Linked DNA regions of Homo sapiens: region 2 is linked to region 1. The links come from fine-mapping of genetic effects on gene expression. A gene starts in region 1. The other region holds a variant in brackets. All regions are shown on one strand. Distances are from middle to middle.

Region 1 (2,912 bases):
CCTCTACCCCACTCCACCCCACCCCAGCCCAGCCTTGCCACCTGCTTAGACCCAACACCTGTGAGGCCTGGCTCGACCTGCCTACCAAAGGAAGGATAAACATTAACTACCCATATAGTCTCAGGCCCACTTACTAGGCTGGGGCACTTGGTCCGATGCTGGGAAAGGTGGTGAGAGCAGAAGGTGATAGGGTGTTGGACTCCAAGAGAAGCAAGCCCTATTTGAAACCACTCCAAGCTATGCTTTCAAGAGTGGAAAGATGCCTCCTGATTACAGGGTGTAGAAAGGAAACCAGGGGAGAAGATAAGGGGGAAAAATGTCACAGGAAAAACAACAGAGCCAGGAAGTAAATACAGAGATGAGATGAGCCCTTCAGCTCCAGGCTCTTAGGTCAGAGCCTGGTTTACTTCAGCAAAGAACTCCTGTGTCCTGTCTGCTGGCCAGAATACTCATTTGTTCAGGGAACCTGCTCCAAGGTCCCATGTTTCCTCTCTCCTCCCTTGTTAGCCAAGGCTTTCCACACACCTTTGCTTCCCTCCTGCCAAGAAGTATACCCTTGGACAAAAAGCATGCTATTGAGAACCTAAAATAAATAAATGCCCCTCTTTTCTCAAAGAAGCAAACTGTGTACCTCCTTCTTATTCATTTTTAGACCTTAGTTGCTCAAATCGGCTTGAGTTTCTATTCTTGGGCATCTTTTTTTTTTTCTTTATGAATCTAAATGGTGACTACTTTATTGTGGGCATTTTTAAATGCAAGTTTTCCACTAAAGGCACATGCAAGCAGACCGCAGGCAGGCACGCGTACACACACACACACACACACACACACACGCACACACACACTCATTTTCCCTCTCTCCCCCCACCCCTCGCCCGCCACACAGTACCTCTGGAGCTTCCCCTCCCTCAGTCATTTCCCCTCAGCCAGCTGAACAAGGCCAAGGCTTGGAAATAATTTTTCTGTGGCCTACCTTCTGATTCCGTCAGGTCTGAGAAGCAGGCGGCAGCTGTAAGCTGGGAGGCCGGGGCTGGGCTGCCTCTGTGAATCAGCAAAGAAGTCCCTGAGACAGGGATGCCGACAGCTGCTGTATGCACACTCTCCCTCTGTCTCTCCCACTTCCCTGTCTTCCTTCTTCTCCTCCTCCTCCCCTCTCAGAGCTGCTCTGTGTTGCTATGCAATCATATCACCAGGACTAACAGCATCATTCCGACCTCAGGCAAAAATACCCTTGACTGGGCAAACGCAGGAAGAGCAAGGACAGTTTTGTAAAACTACCAGAGATGTGGCGGCTCTTGGAGATGTCAATTCATTAGAAGCAGAGGAGGAAAGCGGAAGAGCCTGAGAAGCAGAGGGGGAGAGAAGGAGACAAGGAGAGGGGGAAGAGGGAGAGAGGGGGAGAGGGGGAGAGGGGAAGAGGGGGAGAGGCTTCCACTGGGGAGGAGGAGACAAAAGAGCCCTGGAGATCAATCAGGCTGCTGAGCGAGCAGCCTGGACCCCAACTTACACCGATCTAGCCCACAGACAAAACCAACTTTGGAGCCAGCAGCTGGCAGGGGCCCCTCGGTAGCCAGTCCAGGATTCTGCTTCTGTGTTGAGGGTTGAAACACTGTGGTCTGGAATCATCACTGGTACTCAAGGTACAGTTTTGGGCTCAGGACAGTCTGCCAGTCACCCCTAAGTCTCATCCTCACACCCTCTTAGATCTCACGTGTAGAAAAAGCCTCAACAAATTGGGGAAACAAAATGGATCTTGAATAATTCAGGAAAATACAGCTCCTCCATGACTCACCTCAATGACTACTACCCCAGGCACCTTCCTGCTTTTGTCCATACCAGCCCTTACTCTTTTAACTGTCACGCTTGTTAAAGAGAAGAGGGTATGAGCTCCAAACACCCTCAGAGACCTGGGAGAAGCCACTGGCAGGATAGATAAGATTATATCCCTTTACCAAGTGCCCAGCACACAGTAGGTTACTTAATAAATATATGTTGAATGAGTAAATTGAATGAATAGGTGGATGAATAGCAGTCAGAAAGTCCCCATCCTCACCCTCCTACACAAACATACAAAGATTTAAAGCCCCAGCAGTCCCAGGCCACAGCAAAGGATAAAAGCAGCTTTCTTCTTTCCTCCCTCCATCTCTGGGAACAGGGTGTATATGGAGAGAGACAAAGACTGGTTGGGAGTGGGTTGCTTAAGTTCACTGATTTGCCTCTAAAAATTTTATAAGCTCTGATGGCACTGGAACTTAGAAAATACTTCCTAGGGTCGGGCGTGGTGGCTCACGCCTATATAATCCCACACTTTGGGAGGCCGAGGCAGGCGGATCACAAGGTCAGGAGTTCGAGACAAGCCTGACCAACATGGTAAAACCCCCGTCTCTACCAAAAAAATACAAAAATTAGCTGGGCGTGGTGGTGTGCGCCTGTAATCCCATCTACTCAGGAGGCTGAGGCAGGAGAATCACTTGAACCTGGGAGGTGGAGGTTGCAGTGAGCCAAGATCGCACCACTGCACCCAACCTGGGTAACAGAGCAAGACTCTGTCTCAAAAAAAAGAAAAAAAGAAAGAAAGAAAGAAAGAAAATACTTCCTAGGACTAGTATTTACATAGGATCTAGGACTAGTATTTACATAGGATCTAGGACTAGTGTTTACAAAGTGTCTAAAGGACCCAGAATTACTGTTTTTTTTCAGTTCCATTTTAAAATTATTATGTGATTTTTTTATGAAGTATTTTTATTATTTATTTTTAATTGACAAATAATAATTGTATATATTTATGGGCTCCAGCGTGATGTTTTGATCTATGTATACTATGCAGAAAAATTCAGCCCAGCCAATTAACATATTCATCATCCCACCAACTTATCATTTTTTTTGTAGCAAGAACATTAGAAATCTATTAT
Region 2 (2,912 bases), 270 kb after region 1:
TCAGTCCTTCTATATCCTTTTTGATTTTGATCTGTTATTTGTTGAGAGAGAAATGTTACAAGTTTTAAATACAATTGTGGACTTATCTATTTGCACTTTCCTATCTATTAGTTTTTGCTTCATGTATTTTGCAGTCTGTTGTTTGGTGCATATAATTCCATTTTCATTTATTTATATAGGTTATGAATATATATTTTATATGGATATTTAAGTGGTTGTTCTAATTATTGCATTATACATAAGTAATTTACCACAGTCTTCTACTGTCAACATTTTAACCTTTGGGAAGTTTTCAGCTATTATTTTTTCAGAACTTTTTCAGCCCCCTAGTCTTTCTATTTTTCTGCTGGAACTCCAGTGATACGAATGTTCTGTTTTTCTTCATTGTCCTTTAGGACCCTGAGGCTCTGTTCATTTCTTTTTAGTCTGTTTTCTCTCTTGTTCACATTGGGTAATTTTTGTTGTTCTATATTCAAGTTCACTGATTTTTTTCTTCTGTCATATTCATTCGGCTATAGCCCATCCAGTGAGTTTTAAAATTTTTATTGTTTTATTTTTTAATTCTAAAATTTTCATTTGGTTCTTTTTTATATGTTCTGTTTCTTTGCTGAGACTTCTTTTCATTTGTTTCAAGCATACTTTAAATTGCTTGTTGAAGCATTTTTATAATGATTGCTTTAAAATCCTTGTCAGATCATTCCAACATCTGTGTCAGCTCAGCACTGGAGTCTGTGGATTTTATTTTCTCATTCATATTGAGATTTTTCTGATTCTTGGTATAAGTGATTTTCTATTGTATTTTTGACATTTTAGGTATTGTGTTGTGAGACTAAACATCTTATTTCTGGCTGGGCATGGTGGCTCATGCCTGTAATCCCAGCACTTTGGGAGGCCGAGGTGGGCAGATCACCTGAGGTCAGGAGTTTGAGACCAGCCTGGCCAACATCTAGTGAAACCCCGTCCTACTAAAAATACAAAAATTAGCTGGGCATGGTGGTGCACGCCTTATAGTCCCAGCTACTTGGGAAACTGAGGCAGGAGAATCACTTGAACCAGGAAGGCAGAGGTTGCAGTGAGCTGAGATTGCACCACTCTACTCCTGCCTGGGCGACAGAGCAAGACTCCGTCTCTC[T/AAAAT]CAAAAAAAAAAAAAAACAACCAAAAACATCCTGTTTCTTTTTCCTTTTTTGCAGGCAGTCACCCTGGGTTAAATGTGGTGTGCAGGTCTGTGTTGGAGTGGATATACAGCTTTCTGCTGGACCCTGCTGACACTGGCAAAAGTGAAGCACCTTGCCCCATCTTGTTGCCAATGGATGGAAGTGAAAGTTTAGTTCCCCACTCAGCCTTGCAGATACCTCCCTGGCAAAAGCATAGAACTGACTCACATCACTTTGTTGCTGCTGGGTGAGATTGTAAGTTCTGCTCCCTGTCGGGCCTTGTCGACTGACACAGGGATTAGAGAGAAGCAGAATACTGCCACACTGTTTTGTTCTACCTTGTTGGCACTGTGGGGAAGGAGGGAAGTTCACCTCACTGCCAGACCCCTTCCAGGTGGGGGAATGCGGAATGGAGGGATGACTTGCACCAACTCATTGCTGTCAGGTAGGGATGGCCCCACTAATACTACCCCAGTGGGGAAACTGGAGGGCCATCTAGCACCACTTCTCATAGCCTGGTTCCACCTCTTTGCTACTGGGGAGATAGGGTGGAAGTTCACTCCTGTTTGGTCCTGCTGATACCACCCCTGTGGGGGAGGCGCAGGGCCTAGTTGCCCTGCCTAACTGCTGCCATGTGGAGGCAGACATGGGTATCTCTGTTTGGCACAGCTGACACCACAGGGAAGGGGGAAATTTTCCTTTGATGTTTGATTAGGGTAGAGTGGATATTATCAAAAAGATTTTCTCTTCTGCTAGGCCACCCTTTTCCTAGTCATTTAACTAAAGGAAACAGAAAGGGGCTCTTTTTTTGGGTCTGGGCCTATTGGCAGTTTCAGGTTGCAGGCTTCTCCAGCGCCCCATCTGGGATTTATGGTAGACAGCTCATTAGTGTAGTGTTCTTTAGGTCCTAAGGTCTCTAGGTAATCCACCTTGTCCTTTCCACCTTTCAAAGTCTTCCCATGCTTGATTGTTTTTACATCAAGGTTTTCTGTTTTATTTTAAGAGGGAGGAGTAGTGAGAAATGGGTCATTGATTTTTTTAAAAAGATACTTAATTCTTTCTTTCTACTTTCTTTGGTTATGCTATTTTGTTACTTACCTGTATTTTTGAGGTGACTGTTTAGTGCATTTATTGTCAATGAAAATAATTCATGTATTGGCTGGTCGTGGTCACTCACGTCTGTAATCCCAGCAATTTGGTAGGCTGAGATGGTTGGATCACTTGAGTTCAGGAGTTGAAGACCAGCCTGGGCAACATGGTGAAACCTGTCCCTCCAAAAAAAAAATACAAAAATTAGCTGGGCGTGGTGGCTTGTGCTTGTAGTCCCAGCTACTTGGGAGGCTGAGGTAAGAGGATGGATTGAGCCCAGGAGGAGGAGGTTGCAATGAGCCAAGATCATGCCACTGCACTCCAGCCTGGGCAAAAGAGCCAGACCCTGTCTCCAAAAAAAAAAAAAAATTCATGTATTATCAGTTGAAATACATTTGAATATATTGGAATAAATAAGTGAATGTAATGCTGCAACTTTCTTATGAGTACCACTTTAGCTGCATAGTATAGGTTTTGATGGGTTCCGATTTTCCTGCTGATTATTTTTACAGTTTGTAATTTCTGTTTTGATTCTCTGTTTAACTCAAGGGTTATTTAGAAGACTGTTTTTCAAATGCCAAGTGGATAGATGATAAGCAGAGCTGCGCTTTGTGCCTGTAGATTTCCACATAAGCCCAGGCAGGCCCTCAGAGAGCTAGGGTTTTCCTGAAA

Which allele goes with the higher level. Positions count from the first base shown, and alleles are read on the strand shown. Sizes are in standard deviations (SD) of each study's normalised expression.
For the expression in fetal neocortex of the gene that starts at base 1,334 in region 1, AAAAT is the low allele of the variant in region 2 and T is the other (large effect, 1.3 SD a copy in Walker 2019).

Evidence for each region. PIP is the estimated chance that this variant, and not a neighbour inherited with it, causes the effect. A credible set is the group of variants that fine-mapping cannot tell apart.
Region 2: its variant is the best candidate, but not a certain one, in a credible set for the expression of DRP2 in fetal neocortex (Walker 2019, PIP 0.68).

The regions. Positions count from the first base shown.
Region 1 is chrX:101,218,208-101,221,119 of GRCh38, reverse strand. It overlaps DRP2 (dystrophin related protein 2), which reads right to left and starts at 1,334. Exons shown (of 24, transcript NM_001939.3): 1 at 974-1,334.
Region 2 is chrX:100,947,602-100,950,513 of GRCh38, reverse strand. It overlaps a transcript of XKRX not described here. Among named protein-coding and RNA genes, the nearest start is that of XKRX, 20 kb to the right of the region's middle. The variant T/AAAAT (reference allele first, on the strand shown) is at 1,133.